2 separate regions of the Homo sapiens genome follow, and region 2 is linked to region 1. A link means that fine-mapping ties the variant in region 1 to the expression of a gene that starts in the linked region. Tissue or cell type: whole blood. Region 1 holds a variant in brackets; the other region holds the start of a gene. All regions are shown on one strand. Distances are from middle to middle.

Evidence for each region. PIP is the estimated chance that this variant, and not a neighbour inherited with it, causes the effect.
Region 2: LRRC4 starts here. The variant in region 1 is fine-mapped to the expression of LRRC4 in whole blood (INTERVAL, PIP 0.94).

What each region holds. Positions count from the first base shown.
Region 1 is chr7:128,073,561-128,081,560 of GRCh38, reverse strand. It overlaps SND1 (staphylococcal nuclease and tudor domain containing 1), which reads right to left. Exons shown (of 24, transcript NM_014390.4): 17 at 6,871-7,059; 18 at 60-201. Among named protein-coding and RNA genes, the nearest start is that of MIR593, 4.3 kb to the left of the region's middle. RefSeq lists enhancers at 3,953-4,452, 4,453-4,954. The variant A/G (reference allele first, on the strand shown) is at 3,636.
Region 2 is chr7:128,028,271-128,036,270 of GRCh38, reverse strand. LRRC4 (leucine rich repeat containing 4) reads left to right here and starts at 4,834. Exons shown (of 2, transcript NM_022143.5): 1 at 4,834-5,358; 2 at 5,531-8,000. The coding sequence starts at 5,631. The coding sequence ends at 7,592. The region is part of intron 16 of SND1 (staphylococcal nuclease and tudor domain containing 1); the gene reads right to left. RefSeq lists silencers at 3,551-3,620, 4,271-4,390.

The DNA of each region.
Region 1 (8,000 bases):
CCCAGGCAGCGCCAGCTGGACCAAGCCAGGAACCACGAGCCAGCGGCCTGAGCACTCACCGGTCTCCACATCCTGCACGTAGAAGTGCAGGTCATCAGTGATCTCAGTCACAAACACGGGCTTGTAGCTAGCAGATCGCTCCTTCTCCTCCAGCACTGGCATCACCTCCTCCACGGGCTGCTCCTCATAGTGGGCCCAGACCTGCATGTTCAGTCGGCAGAGGTGAGAAGAGGGCGAGGAAGTGAAGTCATAAAAGACACTGGGAGGCCAGGCGTGGTGGCTCATGCCTGTAATCCCAGCACTTTGGGAGGCCGAGGCGGGTGGATCACGAGGTTAGGAGTTCAAGACCAGACTGGCCAATATGGTGAAACTCTATCTCTACTAAAAATACAAAAAATTAGCTGGGTGCGGTGGTGGGCGCCTGTAATCCCAGCTACTTGGGAGGCTGAGGCAGGAGAATCGCTTGAACCTGGGAGGCACGGGTTGCGGTGAGCCAAGATCATGCCACTGCACTCCAGCCTGGGCGACAGTGCAAGACTCCGTCTCAAAAAAGAAGAAAAAAAAAAGACACTGGGAAAGGGGTTTTGGGCAAATGGGATCGGCCCTGGGCGAGTGACTGTGGGGCACTCGATTCACACCAGGCTGAGCCCCTGAAGCCCTCTATCTCGGAGGGGAAAGGTGAGTTCTCTAAAGTCCTGATCTAGCAGTTCTCAAATTCTGGCAGGCATCAGAACCAACAAGGGAATTTATTAAAAATGCAGGCCCCAGATCCTACCCCAGGCCTACCAAATTACAATCTGTTCTGAGCATCCCAGAGAGTAAAAAAGAGCAAAACCAGATCCCAGGCTATCTCATGCACGTCCGAGTGTGAGAGCCCTGCTTTCATGAACTCTTTGGCTCTGGGCTCCTCACACCCGCACCTCTCTTGCTCCAGCTCCCCATCTCCCTTCCCCGTGGCACTCTGCAGGGCACTCTGAATTCTGCAGGACCTCCTGCTGTCACAGGGCTCCTGGTGCTCCTGAAGCAGTCCAAGCCACAGCCCTAGGCTGGGGAAGAGCTCACCAAGAATGCTTCTGCTCAGCAACTTTCCCTTTCTCCATCCTCCTCACCTCCAGCAGGTTGCTCTGACCTCAGCCCAGAAGCTGGGCCATGCGCTCTCCACCCTTCCCTCTCTCCCTTCCTTCCCCAAAGCCCTGTGCTGTCAGGGCTGCAGTGGCTCAGAAGCTGATTTGACGCGACAGCGTGTCAAGTCCAATCCTGCAGCCAGGAGATTATCCAAATGGTGAGGTCTGTCAGAGCAGGGGAGGGAGGTGGCTTTCCAGCTGAGCAGCAGGAAGGGTGGGTGGGAGAGTGCAGAGAATGGATCACGCGTGGGGTCCCACAGACGCACACAGGAATAAGGATGATTAAAAGTATTTGCCCAAAACTTCTGTGCTTATTAGGTGCCAGGTACCATTCTAAACATTCTCCAAATATTAATTCATTTAGTCCTTACAACAACCCTTTGAGTAGGTCTTGGTATTATCCCTGTTTTACAAATGGGAAAACTGAGGTACACAGGCTTGCAGCTAGAAGTAGTGAAATCAGAATTCAAACATAGGCAGCCTGGCACTACAGCTCTTCCAGGGGCACTTTGGCATTGACTAGGTATCCCTGAGAAAACACCACCAACCAGGAGGAAAAAGCTGTTTGTTGGTGGGGGGTGGGGAGGGAGATGAGGACTTATGTCCCTGTTGTTTTTGAACTTGCCATTTGACATTGGTCAAACTTTTCTGGGTCCCCTTTCTTCTCTCTCAGCTGAAATGCAGATTCCTCAGGAGCTTCAGGACACAGCAGAAAGGCAGGAATGCTGGAATTCTGGAACCACCTTGGGTCAACCCAGACCCCACACTTCTGCCTTTAACGCGGCCTGAGCGTGTGTTCTTCCACTAGAAGGAGCGGCTATGGGGGAATGACTGAGACATCTCCCAGGCCCAAGCTTTCCACCATCCTACATCAAGCAGTGCCTTCTATGGCTGGGCTTGTGGGCCCCTGGTATGGGGTCTGGCCTCCTACCCAAATAGTTCCTGACCCCTTCTCACCTTCCAGGCTCCTGATACCCTAACACCTGTCCCCATCACCAGAGACCTCTGTACACACTGCTGCTTCTAGTCCCCTAAGCCCTGGCTGGCCAGAGGGGAGGAGGCAGGCAGCAGGACTTTAACCCACAGCTTTGCCTCTAGTCAGGACAGAGGCCCTAATCCCTCAAGGGCCTTCCTGCCCATGTGGGGAAGTGGGTCTCTAGCTTGTGGGCTTCCCTGTGAAAGGGCCAGGAGAGAGCCATAAATGCTTCTGATGCCAAGCCTATGTCCTGATGGGCCTGAGGCTTTTGCCCTGGGCCTCCAGAGCTGGAAGTTCCCTGGTATCTACTTAGCCAGTCACTCCTATTGACACCTGGGCTCCCAGCCCTTCTGGGACGCTTGCAGCTCTGAGGATCAGTGGGACTCACTCGGCCTCAGAGACGAGACTGTCAGCACTACCTTAAGTGAACTGGGATGGAGCCCTCCTGACCCAGGAGTCTGCTCCCTCATTCCTACCAGCAGGCACCCCTGCAGTCCTGAATCCCTCAGCACGTCCTCTGCTCTGCATCCCATGCAGGTGCTCTTCCCTCTTCCTGCCAGCTCCCTCCTTTCCCGGCACTGAGCTTGTTAACAGAGACCGGCATTCTGTGCTGGTTCCTGAGTGGGCCATGGCCCCTGAGCCTGCAAGCTGTTGAGGGCTCCCATCCTAGCCCCACCCTGCTCCTTTGGCTTGGGGGAAGGCGGCCCCTCAGCAGTGTTGATGAATTCGGAACACACAGGATGAAAGCAGAAACTGCTAAAGACTCCTCAAGTAAAAGTGCCTTGGGTGACAGCATCAGGTGTCCTCCTTGGGGAGAGTGGGGTGGAGCTTCTTTCCCAGCAGGCTCAGGTGGGCAGCAGGCGTGAGGTCACGGAAGATGCAAACCAAAGCCTTGGGGATGGCCCTCAGCCCCCAGCACTAGGGCCAGTCCTGTAACAAGGTGCCACAGCTCACTTCGTGGTGGGTGGGGTGGTGCACACTGCCACCTGAATTGAGAAGACAGCAGAAGCAAGGTGTCTCCATACACAAAGTGGCTGGCACTTGAGGTTGCCAAGAAGCATACAGAGGGTAGGAGAGAGACAGCTGTCTCCTCAGATAAAGGAACTGTGTTTCTAGGAGAGGCTGACCTTTGGCCCTTCAGGCAGTGCAGCCATGACGGTTCCCTCTTTCCCTGTGGGGATGGAGGTGACCAGCTGTTCCTTGGGACTTGCAGCCACATGGGCAAGCTGGTCCATGCAGGCTGGCCAGGTGGCACCTTGGTGGGAAGGAGTCAGTCAGCTGGGACAGGCGTGGTTGCCCTTGTCCCCATCCTTAGAACAAGGGTGCATTTGGCTCAGGCTGCCCTTCTGCAGAGCTGGGGTGCATGGAGGAGACACACTCACTGGCAAGACACCTGCCAGACCCAGCCACTTTCCACAGCCATCCTCAGCCCCTCACAGCTCAGATTTCCCATAAGAAGCTGGTTTCTGGGAATCCCCATTGTAGATGCTCCTCTTCCTGGACCTCTGGGGAGATGACAAGGAAAACTCCAGAAG[A/G]AACAGTAGTTGTACACCCAGACACAGAAAATTATTGCTGTATGGCTCTACCCCAGCCTCTTGAAAGATGGAGGAGCTGGGGAAGAGCCTCTATGGCCAAAGAGCTGGGCAGAGAACAGGGGTCCTGAGCTTGACCTAAGCAGCAGGGCCCAGGAATGCTGGGAGAGCCAACCACAGGACAGTCTGCCCTTCTCATGGACCACCTCTAAGCATGTGGAGAGGCTGTTACTAAGCCTGCTATTGTGGAGAGGCTGTCCCAGCTGACTGATGCCAGGGTTTGCGGTCAGGTGGGGGAAGTGTCTCTCCAGGCCAAGGCCAGGGTGGAGCTCTGCCCCTGGTGGGGCACTGCTGGTACCCCCGGTGGCCCCAGCTACAGAGCAAGACTGGGAAGGGTGGATGGAGGCCCCTCCTGCCTGTTCATCTGCTCCAGGCTGCTCTGCCATGCAAGTTCCTGTCTTGCTCGGGTCCCCTCTACACTTTGGGGCTCCTTGTGTTCTGTTGCTGCGGCCACCCTGAGGGAAAGAGCCCATCAAGCCAGGCACAGACCAGGCAGGTCAGGAATGGAGGCTGTCTCTCCTCTCCTCTCCCTGCCCTGGCTCTCTCTCTTCCCTGCATTTCCTCCTCAGGGAGTCCCAGGTCCTTCTCTTGGCAGGTGATGAGGACTGTGGACAGAGAATCCACTGGCTGGAGTCTTTCCTTTCTAAATCCTGTTTAACATTGCTGCTTGCAAGGCTCCAGGGGTGGGGCTGGCGAGGGGCCAAGGTGGCGGAGGCCTTTAGGCCTGCAGCAGGGAAGCCAAGCTCAATAAAAGCCAATCGATGGCCAATCCAGCCCTGTGCAGGGCCCTGCTGAGCACGTGTGTGAGATGGGGTTAAGGAGGGGGGACAGGCATCTGCCATCTGTGGTTCCCTCCTTGGTCCTCAGGTCTGCCCAGGGCTGCTGAGGAGGAAGTGGGGGTTACCTCCTGCCAAGGAAGTGGAGAGCCCTATCGGCCTCTTCACTGAGGAGGCATCCACAGGGCACAGGGAGGAATTACACTCAGCAGGGAGGTAGTTAAGCCTTCGTAGCTGGGAAACCAGCATTCTCAGATTCCCCCAGACAGACACACTCACGAATGCATGCACACACAATCACACTCCCTAAAGCCTTCTGCACTTCCTGGTCTCACAGAATCCCTCAGCATTACCTTTCCTTGGTTAGCTACAGGCACAAACATTCCTGCATCCTGATGCTAACAGGATCTTGTAACCACTGTCTCTTGACAGGTAAGGCAGCCCTTGTGGGATCAAGTGGGACAAGGCTGGGTACACCCCAGATACTCAGGTTACTGTCCCCCAGCCGGCCACCAGATGCTCTTATCAGGGTTCAGCCAACTCTTAGAGCTGCTACAAAGCTCTGCTAGTGCTGCTCCTGGGAAACAGCCCCTCCAGGAGGAAGAAAGCCAGCCTCGGTTCCTCAGGATCCTTGACGAGCAGACTGGGATTTGCAGGAGAGGGACCCAGGAGGCGGCAGGCCCTAGCACTGAGAGTTGTGCACTGCATTTTAATTGGACTGGAATAAAAACACGCAGGCCGTGTAAGTAATTAATCACTGGTAATTACTCCTCAGCGTCATCAAGTGGCACCAGCAAAATGGTGACTTGGGCTCTTTCAGACAAACCCACTGTGCAGTAAATAACGATGCTGAGTTCAGCACAGCCCCTGGCAGGGAACCCACCCTTCCATCTCAGGCCAGAGTCCCCTCCCTGTGCTCCCCTGGGTTCCTCTAGAGTCTCTACTCTTAGAGGGTAGAGGATCGCCCAGCTCTGAAAAGGTGGCTTCCAGGTTCACTGCTGAAAAGCCAGGAAGCAGGGCAAGGACGAAGATGCTTTTGGCCTCTGGGCGTTAGACTCTGGGGCTTGCCGCTCTACCCCCAGCTGCTAACTCTTCTGTGAAAGTGCCAACCTTTAAACAGGAGGCCCCAGCGCTGCCCCTCCCCCCCTCTCCCTGCAGCAGGCAGAGGACATGGGGGTGGCAGTCTTAAGTTCAGCTGTCACAAGCAGGAAATCCAGGAAGAAGCCGTGTGACTCCTTTCCTATAGGAGCTGAGGCTGCCTGCTTCCCCCTCATTCTGGGAGGAGGAGGCTTGATGTGAGCAGGAGGTGGGAATCTCCTCTGAGGTCTGATGGTGGCTGCCTCCTGCAGGGCACTGACCGTCCCTTTCATCTGTGCTAGCTTTGTGGTCCACCTTTCCCTGGAGTCTTTCCACCTCCACTCTCCTCTACCACCAAGGGGCTGGTTGCCTGCCCCAATCCCCAGGGGAAGGGAAGAATAGATAGAGAGAGACCCAGGAGGACAGTCCCAAGGGGACAAGAGATGCCCTGAATGAGGAGGCAGCTGCTTGGGGCTGGTGAAGAATCTGGTGCTTCTGGGGCCTCAAAGCCCCCGACTCTTTTTGGCAGGTGTCCGGGCCTTAGCTCTGGGAAGTGAGTTTTGAGCCAGATGGCTGCCCCATGGGGAAGGAAGCATTTATTCCTGGAACAAATTTATAGCTCAGCACGGCTGTCCCACGAATCCTCCTCAAGCTCAGAGAAGCCCTGACAAATTGGTGGCCAGCTGATTTATCCCCATTATCAGGGCCGGGCTATAAGTCAAAAGCAACAGGCTGGGTGAGCCCGGCTCCCACCTCCAAATCACTGCATTCCTCAATTGTCAATTGGTTTCCAAAAGCCACTTTCCACCCCATCCCCCTTGTCTCTTCAATGCGGTGCCCACAGAGACTGATGGGCTATAAATCTCTTGTCCTAACAGCTAGAGGCCTCTCCTAGGGTTGTTTCCCCACGGGGCAATGTGAAGGAAATTCAGATGTGGGCTTGGGCCGCCCAGTCCTGAGGGCACTGACAGAGAAGGGTCAGGGCTGGGGAGGGAGGGGCGCCCCGGGCATTTTGTCCCATGGCTCCACAGTCACCTAGACAGATTTCTGCTTCAGGACCACCTGAGCAGGCCTGGGATCACTGATGACATTCTGGGCTGGCAGCCCAGGCCCACCTCAGGTCTGCAACAGGCTGTGGCCGAGGACACCTCAGCTGGCAGCCTCTCCTCGCCTGTGTGTGGCCTTGGTGTGGGGTCTGAGACCAACACCTTCCTGGGCTACTCTGTGGGGATGAGAGAACTTCCTCCTGTTCTCTGGAGGCAGCAGCATTAGTGTGTGAGGAGGACGGGAGGGCAGGGAGAGCACAGCTGGGCTGCCACATGTACCTTCTCTTTCTTCTGCTTTGCGGCCTCCTCGGCAGACAGCAGGGACTTGTAGTAGGAGCTGCGTTCGGCGGTGAAGTGGACCTTGGAGAGCGCGTGCTCCACCAGCAGGACGGACAGGTTGGCACCGTCGATGTGCAGCCAGCCGATAAAGTTGCCGGCCTTGTCCATGCTCTCCACCTCCACCTCCACCTGGGACAGAGAGACAGGCGTAAGCCTGTGGGGGCCAGGCCTGAGTGTGCAGGGGCTGTGCCCGTGGGGAGGACAGCAGCGCCGAAGCCTTGGGCTCACAGGCCTTGGCAGCCGCTGCCAACCTCTGGGAACCCCCAGAACCCTTCAATTTCAGCCTCTCACGGGAACAGACACACCCCAAAACTCGACTCTCTTCTCAGAGCCCCTTCCCCTCCTTGCGGCAGAAAGCTACCGGGGCAAACGGGATTCTCCTTAACCTGAGAGAGAGAGAGAGAGCGCAGCTGAAGGTCAGGAGCAAGTGAAGAAGCAGGCAGAGGTCTTGGTGCCTCCCACTCTTCAGCACCCTCCCCAGCTCTGTGCTAGAAGACAGGCAGGTCCTTAGGGAGCGAGGCAACCCCTGGGGAGAGGGAGGCTGCTTTTCCTGGTAGAGCTGAATGAATTCGTGTCTAATGAAGGTAATTAAAGTGGTTGCATGAAAAGCAGGAGAGGAGAGGGGGAGAGGACAGGAGAGGCAGAAAGACGCGGGCAGGAAATGCATCAGCGCAAGGGCAGTGAGTGACAATCCCGCAGAAGGAGTGGCCAGAAGGGTGTGGGCTGTGGCTGAACCCCAGAGCCCTCAAGGAATCTCCACGGGCCTCAAGGCCTCCTCCACTGACTGTCTCATCCCGAGGACCCAGGATAACAGACCTAGCACTGACTGCTTTTCTAAAAGGGCAGCCTCAGGATCGTGGCCCTCGTGGTAGCTGATCTGCTCCCACATCGTGAAGGCCACTGCCCAGGATAAATTCCTTCTTTGATTTTCTCCTGACCTCTTTCTTTCCCTGCTAAAGGGGCCTATAAATGTCTTTGCTGCCAAATGTAAAAACTTGTATTAATTTAAATGCCTTCAAGCTCGATTAAGCAATAAAATGAATGTCTAAATACCTGGGAATTCTCGAGGT
Region 2 (8,000 bases), 45 kb after region 1:
ATGGCTAGTTGTCCCTGATAGGTGTTTGCACACGTGGGTGGAACTAAGACACACACACACACACACAAATGTGTTCATTACCTTGGAAAGAAGGCAGTGACTATTTCCATGTAGACCATTCCTACTTTTTATTATTACTGATTCACCAATTGATATCTTTCCTTCCCTTTGTGGAGGGCAATTTCCATACTACTTTTTTCTTTCTAGTTTCCCAAATTCCTTTTATGTCTTTGCTCCTGTTCTGTTCCTGCCACTGATGGACCTACCCTTAAAAGAGTCCGCAAAGCCTATTTGGTGGCAAAACGATACCCAGCTCACTCCTGGAACACCCTATGAGGCATTATGGACATCTAGTGGCTGCTCAGGATAATGCCTCAGGGATGCATATCAGGTTAGGGAGTGGTCTAGCCTTGGGCTTTACTAAGGAACCCAATTATCCTGGCTGGGTGGGAGAGTCCTGGGTCCTCTAGATGACCATTTCTGTCATTTTCTATTGGCGACCCAAAGTCACTAGGAAGTGCAGACTGGTGCTATTGAAGACTCTTCTTTATCCCAATCCAGCAAAGTATAGTTGCACTGGCATACAAGCCCACATTAGACAGGCATTTGGAAATATCTTCAAGGCCCAGGTTTAAATGCCAATTAGCCATACATTGTTACTTAGAGGAACTGAGGTCAAAAAGGACAGACTCTGATACTAATCAGTCATGTAGCTTTAGGTAAGTCACTGTGCCTCTCTGAGCTTCATCAGTGACATCTGTAAAGTGAGAGGTTAAATCCAGATAATCTCCAAGGTCCACTTTAGTTTAACATTCTGTGATCTATGTGTCTTTTTAGTAGCTGGGAAAACACAGTCCGATTTGCTCTGCTCCAGCACTGTGGATCTCTAGATTAAATGAAGAAAGCATTCTCACTTAACTTTGTGGCCCATTTCCAAGACTTGGCTACAATTCCAAAGGATCAACCTTCACAGAGCTACATATCTGAGATGGGACAGGAATCATGGACTAAGAGAGCGGTAAGAAACTTTCTAATCCATTTCCTTGATTTTATAAATGGAAAAACTGATGTTTAGAGCTATTTTAAGATTTGTCACATGTCTAAAGGGGACTAGAACTCAGGTATCCCAATCTTAGCACAGGGCTCATTCTATAATACCAGGCTGCTGACACAGGCCTTCCCCAATCACTGCTGGCTTTTTTAGCTCTCTCTGGCGTTATCACAGCAGTCTCCCTGTGTGAAACTGCAAGTGAAAACAATCTGAATCCACTGTCTCTTCCTCTTAGGGTGTAAGTAGCCTTCTTTCCTTCTTATTCTTTGGTGGCACCATTCCAAATCCAAGAAGCAGTCAGAGCCACGGGCTGTGAGGAGCAAGATGCCATAGCTAGATGGTACTTGGGTTACCAAAATGAGAGGCTGCAATCCCACTTTCAGCTCAGAAGGGCTGTGTGCAACGACGGCCCCACAGCCTCCTCTGTAGTCCAGTTAGTAGGTTCAGTGGTGCTTTCCTGGCCCAGCTGGCTTACAGGGGGCAAAGCAGCCTGATGTAGAGCTCGACAGAGCTTGGGCATAGTCACCTTCATGGATGGCAGTCACAAATACTTACTGAGAGACAACCTCATTACTAAGTACTGGTCTGACCCAACTCGGCCCCCACTTTCATCTACCTTTATAGTGCGGGGCAGCAGCTTTCATTTGTGGAGCCTGGAGCTGAACAGACAGGGTTTGAGTTTGCCTACAGTAGCAGAGGACCAGCCCAGGCAGAGACCCTGTTGCCTGAGGAGGGAAGGATAGTCATACTTAATCGCTGCCATCCAGACCCTGGCCAGGGGTCTCCTCAGGCAATAGATGACTCTACTAGGTCGGTGCCAGCTATAAAGGAGCAGAACCTCTCACCAGAAAGTCTGAGTGCCCAGATGGAACTAAACCCCAGTATCAGGGTTTGACTTACCTCCATGTCTCCCTCATTCTTTTTCTTGATGAGAGTTCATTTTCTCAGCCCGTCTCCTACCCTTCATCTTACTTCTCTGACACATCCTTCACTGAACTTTCCTACAGTCTCTCTCTCCTCCCCCCTCCACTTGCCTCCACCATTTACTCTATGAAGAGTAGACACAGCGGGCATTCCTGTTAGTGATGAAAACATCGGACTCAGGGTTTGAAGGCTGGATGGAAAGGCTGGCTCTGTTACTTTCTAGTGTGTGACCTTGGGCAAGTTATTTGCCTGCCTAAGCTAAGTGCCTTCATCTGTGAAATGGAGACAAGTGTGGCAATTACTTTCACTGGGTAAATGAAGATTAAACAAGAACAGATATAAGTTCTTGGTATGGTGGATAGTACATAGTAGATAAGCATCCCAGTAAATGACTATTGAAGTGGATGAATGAAACCTGAGTTCTCATCCCACTAGGAGAATACTTTGGGGAATCACTTCCACACCCAAGTTTCTTGACATCTGAGACGTGCTGAGGCTCAAATCCACTATCACTTACTAGTGACCCTAGGCAACGTTTGACTCATATAAAATGAATAATAGGGTTGCAGTGGAATACAGAGTAAGGGTTCAATAAACAGAAACTAACAAGGTTATTATTTGACAGCAAATGATAACAGAAAGGTCTTGGCAAAGAATGGGGACTCCAACTTGCCTACAAAGGAACCGTTTCCAGGACTTCAAGTATTCCATGGCGTATTTAAAGAGGTTCAGGTTACTGGGCAAAAGACAATACTCAGAAATAGGTGTGGTAGAAACCAGAGAGCTGAGAAATCTGGGACCTCCTCGTTCTTAAGCAACAGCCCACGCGCAGGTGATGAGGGTTTATCAAGCGAGCCTGCCAGAAATCACACGGGGAGAGGGGTGGGTTGAGGAGTCTGGAGGCAGCTCTTGAAGGGAAGGGATATTAAACCATGCTATATTCTACTGGACCGGCTTCCCAGGGCTCAGCTAGATTGCCTCACCCACAGTCGGCAGAGAAAGGGGCAGTCTTTTTTCAGGGGGGTGGGAAAAAGCTGACCTAGTCCCCTTCTCCTACACTAGTCTGTCAAATGCCTTAGGGTCTCCTACCAGAAATAGGAGCAAGAATTCCACCCCCACTCCCAATCGCTACCCCTGGCTGCTACGCAGTTCTTCTCAGAGTCCTAGCCAAGGAAGGGCTGGCGAGCTCACAGGGCAGGGGGCTCAGCCGCCCGCCTCCCTTCCCCCAGTTCTCTGGGGGCAGCGGGGAGCAAGGGGCGACTCCGGCCAGCGAAGACTGAGAAGCCGCGGCTGCAGCTCCATGAATGAACGGGCTGTGTCGTGGGCTCCGGGAGTTCACCTCAATCCTTCCTGCCGGCCTCTGTGCTGTCCCAGGTTGCCATTCCCCAGCTCATCACACTTGGTCATTCCTGCCACTGTTTCCCGCCCCCGCAACCCTCATTAAGGAAACCCTCATTTAAAGCCCCAGTGAGAGCACAGGAGGGGTGAGGCAAAGCGAAGGAGGGGCTGGCGGCAGTGCAGCAGCGAAGCCCGGGCTCTCGGTCCTGGGAGCCTCGTGGCCCCGGCCGCCGTCCCCCGAGTCCCCACCACGCAGTTCCGAACTCCGAACGCGAGTCCGCGCCCCGTCAGCAGTCAGCGGGGGTGAGGATGACGCGGGCCGGGCGAGAGGCAGGCCAAATGCAGCAGCCCCGCCGCGGGCCGCCGGGCCCCTGAGCCCCGCTCTTCAGAGCCAGGGGGCCCCGGGTGCGGGCCGGAGGGCGGGGGCCGGCGCGGGCTCTCCCGCCGCAGCCCCGCGCCGCTCCAGCCTATCAGCGGCCACCCAACTGCTCCCTCCGACCGGCCCAAAATAGCTGCGAACGCCTGCGACTTGCGCGCGGCCCCTCACTTGACGCTCACTCCGGCTCGCTCGCCCGCTCGCCCTGGCCCCGCTCCGCTCGTCTAGAGGGGGCGGGGAGGAAGCGGCCCGGGGAGGGGGGAGGGGGGAGGGGGAGAGAGGAAGAGAGGAGGAAGGAAGGAGGAAAGAGGAAGACGGGCGGCCGGAGGCGCGGGGCTGCGCGGCGCCGGCCGGCGCGGCGCTGGAAGGCGCCGGCGTTAACCCCGCGAGGCAGGCGACGGAGGGGGAGCGGCGCTAATACATAAGAGCACTGCATCACGCTAATCTTCTCCCAGAACAGTATGCGTCAGCAGTACATTCACGTTCTGACTGAAGGACAAAAGGATGAGAGAGCAGTCTGCGTGGCTGCCGCCTGCAACACCGCGAGCCCGGCGCGAGGAGGAGACGGTGGGCGCCGCGCGCAGGGGCCCCGCTGCTGCTGCTGCCGCCGCTAGCCAGCGGGGACTATGTTCCTGGGCTCCGGAGCGTTTCCCGCAGCCGCGACCCCCGCTGCTCACGCCGCTGCAGCAGTCCGCTGGCGGCGCGGCCACTGAGGGCGCCGGGAGCCGAAGCCGCGAACTCGCTCCCTCCGCACAAAGCCGGAGCCGGCGGCGCGCCGGGGGCCGGGCAGCGGCGGGCGGCGACGGGCGGTTGCGCGCCGCCGGGGGCTGCGGCCGCCGCCGCCGCCGGACCCGCGCCCGCCCCCGGACTCTCTGAAGGGGCCTGCGGTGCGGGCGCGACCGCGGGCGCCGCGCGCTCCTCCGGCCGGCGGACCGGGTCCGAGCGCAGCCGCCACGCCGCTGGTCCTCGGGGGCCGGACGGAGCGCCGCCCCGCGTGCCGGCAGCCGGCGGACTGGAGAACTGACCCCCCGTTTTTGTCTCTTCCACCCTCCGAGAAGAGGCGAGGAGAAAGGGGGTGTGTGTCTGGGGAGGGCGAAGGCGCCGCGAACACCTCCTCTTAACTCTCGCCGCTCCGCGAGCTCACGACCGCAATCAGCTGCCGCCGGCCCGGAGCGGCCGACGCCGGGAGAGGGAGCGCAGCATCCAGCGAGTGCGGCCTGGGCGGCTTCGGGGCGCCCCCGCACTCCCTCCGGCGGCGGCCCGCAGAGCGGGCCGGGGCCGCCGGAGCGCACTTTGGCGATGAAGCGCCTTCCCCCGCGGCTGGAGCGAGCCGGTGCCAGGGTCCAAGGACAAAGCCGGGAAGCGCTGGTGGCGCCGCTCCTTGGGCGGAGGGGGGGGCATGCACCTGCATAGCCCGCCGGGCCTTGGCTCTCCCAGGCGCGCCTCAACTCCGCGGCTTCGCCGGCTCCGGCTCCGGATTTACTAGAGGCCATTTTGTCTCCCCCACCCCTTCCCTCCCCTCCCCTCCCCTCCCCTCTGCCCTCCCCGCCCCCACCACTTCCCCCTTTTGTTAATTAAAACTAAGAAGTCGGAATGGGAACGAGGTGCCCAGCTCCCGTGGAGAAAGCTTAAGGACACCACGCCAGTGCTTTCCTGCCTTCCTTCCGAGGTAGGTGACGGCGAACTGGGTGGGGACGGTTGCAGTGTGGGAGAGTCGTAGCTTTCGGAGGGCTTGCCTTGAGGGTGGGTTGGGAGACCAGGGGCCGCTCGAGTTTGGCAGGATTTTTTTCGGCCGATCCGCTCCGTCTCTCTAATCGCCCCCTCCCCACCTCCTTCTCCAGATGGAAAGAGGAGCTCCTAGCTCACTTAAGCCGGGGTAGGGCTGGTTCTCCTTTCCGAGCCAAAATCCCAGGCGATGGTGAATTATGAACGTGCCACACCATGAAGCTCTTGTGGCAGGTAACTGTGCACCACCACACCTGGAATGCCATCCTGCTCCCGTTCGTCTACCTCACGGCGCAAGTGTGGATTCTGTGTGCAGCCATCGCTGCTGCCGCCTCAGCCGGGCCCCAGAACTGCCCCTCCGTCTGCTCGTGCAGTAACCAGTTCAGCAAGGTGGTGTGCACGCGCCGGGGCCTCTCCGAGGTCCCGCAGGGTATTCCCTCGAACACCCGGTACCTCAACCTCATGGAGAACAACATCCAGATGATCCAGGCCGACACCTTCCGCCACCTCCACCACCTGGAGGTCCTGCAGTTGGGCAGGAACTCCATCCGGCAGATTGAGGTGGGGGCCTTCAACGGCCTGGCCAGCCTCAACACCCTGGAGCTGTTCGACAACTGGCTGACAGTCATCCCTAGCGGGGCCTTTGAATACCTGTCCAAGCTGCGGGAGCTCTGGCTTCGCAACAACCCCATCGAAAGCATCCCCTCTTACGCCTTCAACCGGGTGCCCTCCCTCATGCGCCTGGACTTGGGGGAGCTCAAGAAGCTGGAGTATATCTCTGAGGGAGCTTTTGAGGGGCTGTTCAACCTCAAGTATCTGAACTTGGGCATGTGCAACATTAAAGACATGCCCAATCTCACCCCCCTGGTGGGGCTGGAGGAGCTGGAGATGTCAGGGAACCACTTCCCTGAGATCAGGCCTGGCTCCTTCCATGGCCTGAGCTCCCTCAAGAAGCTCTGGGTCATGAACTCACAGGTCAGCCTGATTGAGCGGAATGCTTTTGACGGGCTGGCTTCACTTGTGGAACTCAACTTGGCCCACAATAACCTCTCTTCTTTGCCCCATGACCTCTTTACCCCGCTGAGGTACCTGGTGGAGTTGCATCTACACCACAACCCTTGGAACTGTGATTGTGACATTCTGTGGCTAGCCTGGTGGCTTCGAGAGTATATACCCACCAATTCCACCTGCTGTGGCCGCTGTCATGCTCCCATGCACATGCGAGGCCGCTACCTCGTGGAGGTGGACCAGGCCTCCTTCCAGTGCTCTGCCCCCTTCATCATGGACGCACCTCGAGACCTCAACATTTCTGAGGGTCGGATGGCAGAACTTAAGTGTCGGACTCCCCCTATGTCCTCCGTGAAGTGGTTGCTGCCCAATGGGACAGTGCTCAGCCACGCCTCCCGCCACCCAAGGATCTCTGTCCTCAACGACGGCACCTTGAACTTTTCCCACGTGCTGCTTTCAGACACTGGGGTGTACACATGCATGGTGACCAATGTTGCAGGCAACTCCAACGCCTCGGCCTACCTCAATGTGAGCACGGCTGAGCTTAACACCTCCAACTACAGCTTCTTCACCACAGTAACAGTGGAGACCACGGAGATCTCGCCTGAGGACACAACGCGAAAGTACAAGCCTGTTCCTACCACGTCCACTGGTTACCAGCCGGCATATACCACCTCTACCACGGTGCTCATTCAGACTACCCGTGTGCCCAAGCAGGTGGCAGTACCCGCGACAGACACCACTGACAAGATGCAGACCAGCCTGGATGAAGTCATGAAGACCACCAAGATCATCATTGGCTGCTTTGTGGCAGTGACTCTGCTAGCTGCCGCCATGTTGATTGTCTTCTATAAACTTCGTAAGCGGCACCAGCAGCGGAGTACAGTCACAGCCGCCCGGACTGTTGAGATAATCCAGGTGGACGAAGACATCCCAGCAGCAACATCCGCAGCAGCAACAGCAGCTCCGTCCGGTGTATCAGGTGAGGGGGCAGTAGTGCTGCCCACAATTCATGACCATATTAACTACAACACCTACAAACCAGCACATGGGGCCCACTGGACAGAAAACAGCCTGGGGAACTCTCTGCACCCCACAGTCACCACTATCTCTGAACCTTATATAATTCAGACCCATACCAAGGACAAGGTACAGGAAACTCAAATATGACTCCCCTCCCCCAAAAAACTTATAAAATGCAATAGAATGCACACAAAGACAGCAACTTTTGTACAGAGTGGGGAGAGACTTTTTCTTGTATATGCTTATATATTAAGTCTATGGGCTGGTTAAAAAAAACAGATTATATTAAAATTTAAAGACAAAAAGTCAAAACAAAAATATTTTCTAACTTGTAAGTTCTATTTAAAGGGGGTGGGGGGGAATCTTGGGAACGTTGTGGGGTACAAGCCACAAGTTAACTTGCTATGCTGCCAGAAGGGATTTCTGGTATAAGGTTGAAATTGCTGAGATAAAATAAACTAAAACAACAAACATCCTTAAAGAGGTAGGGTGTGGGCTGCTGAGGGGGCAAGAGGGATAGACTGAATCTGTCATTTTTTAGAAGATGCTTCATAG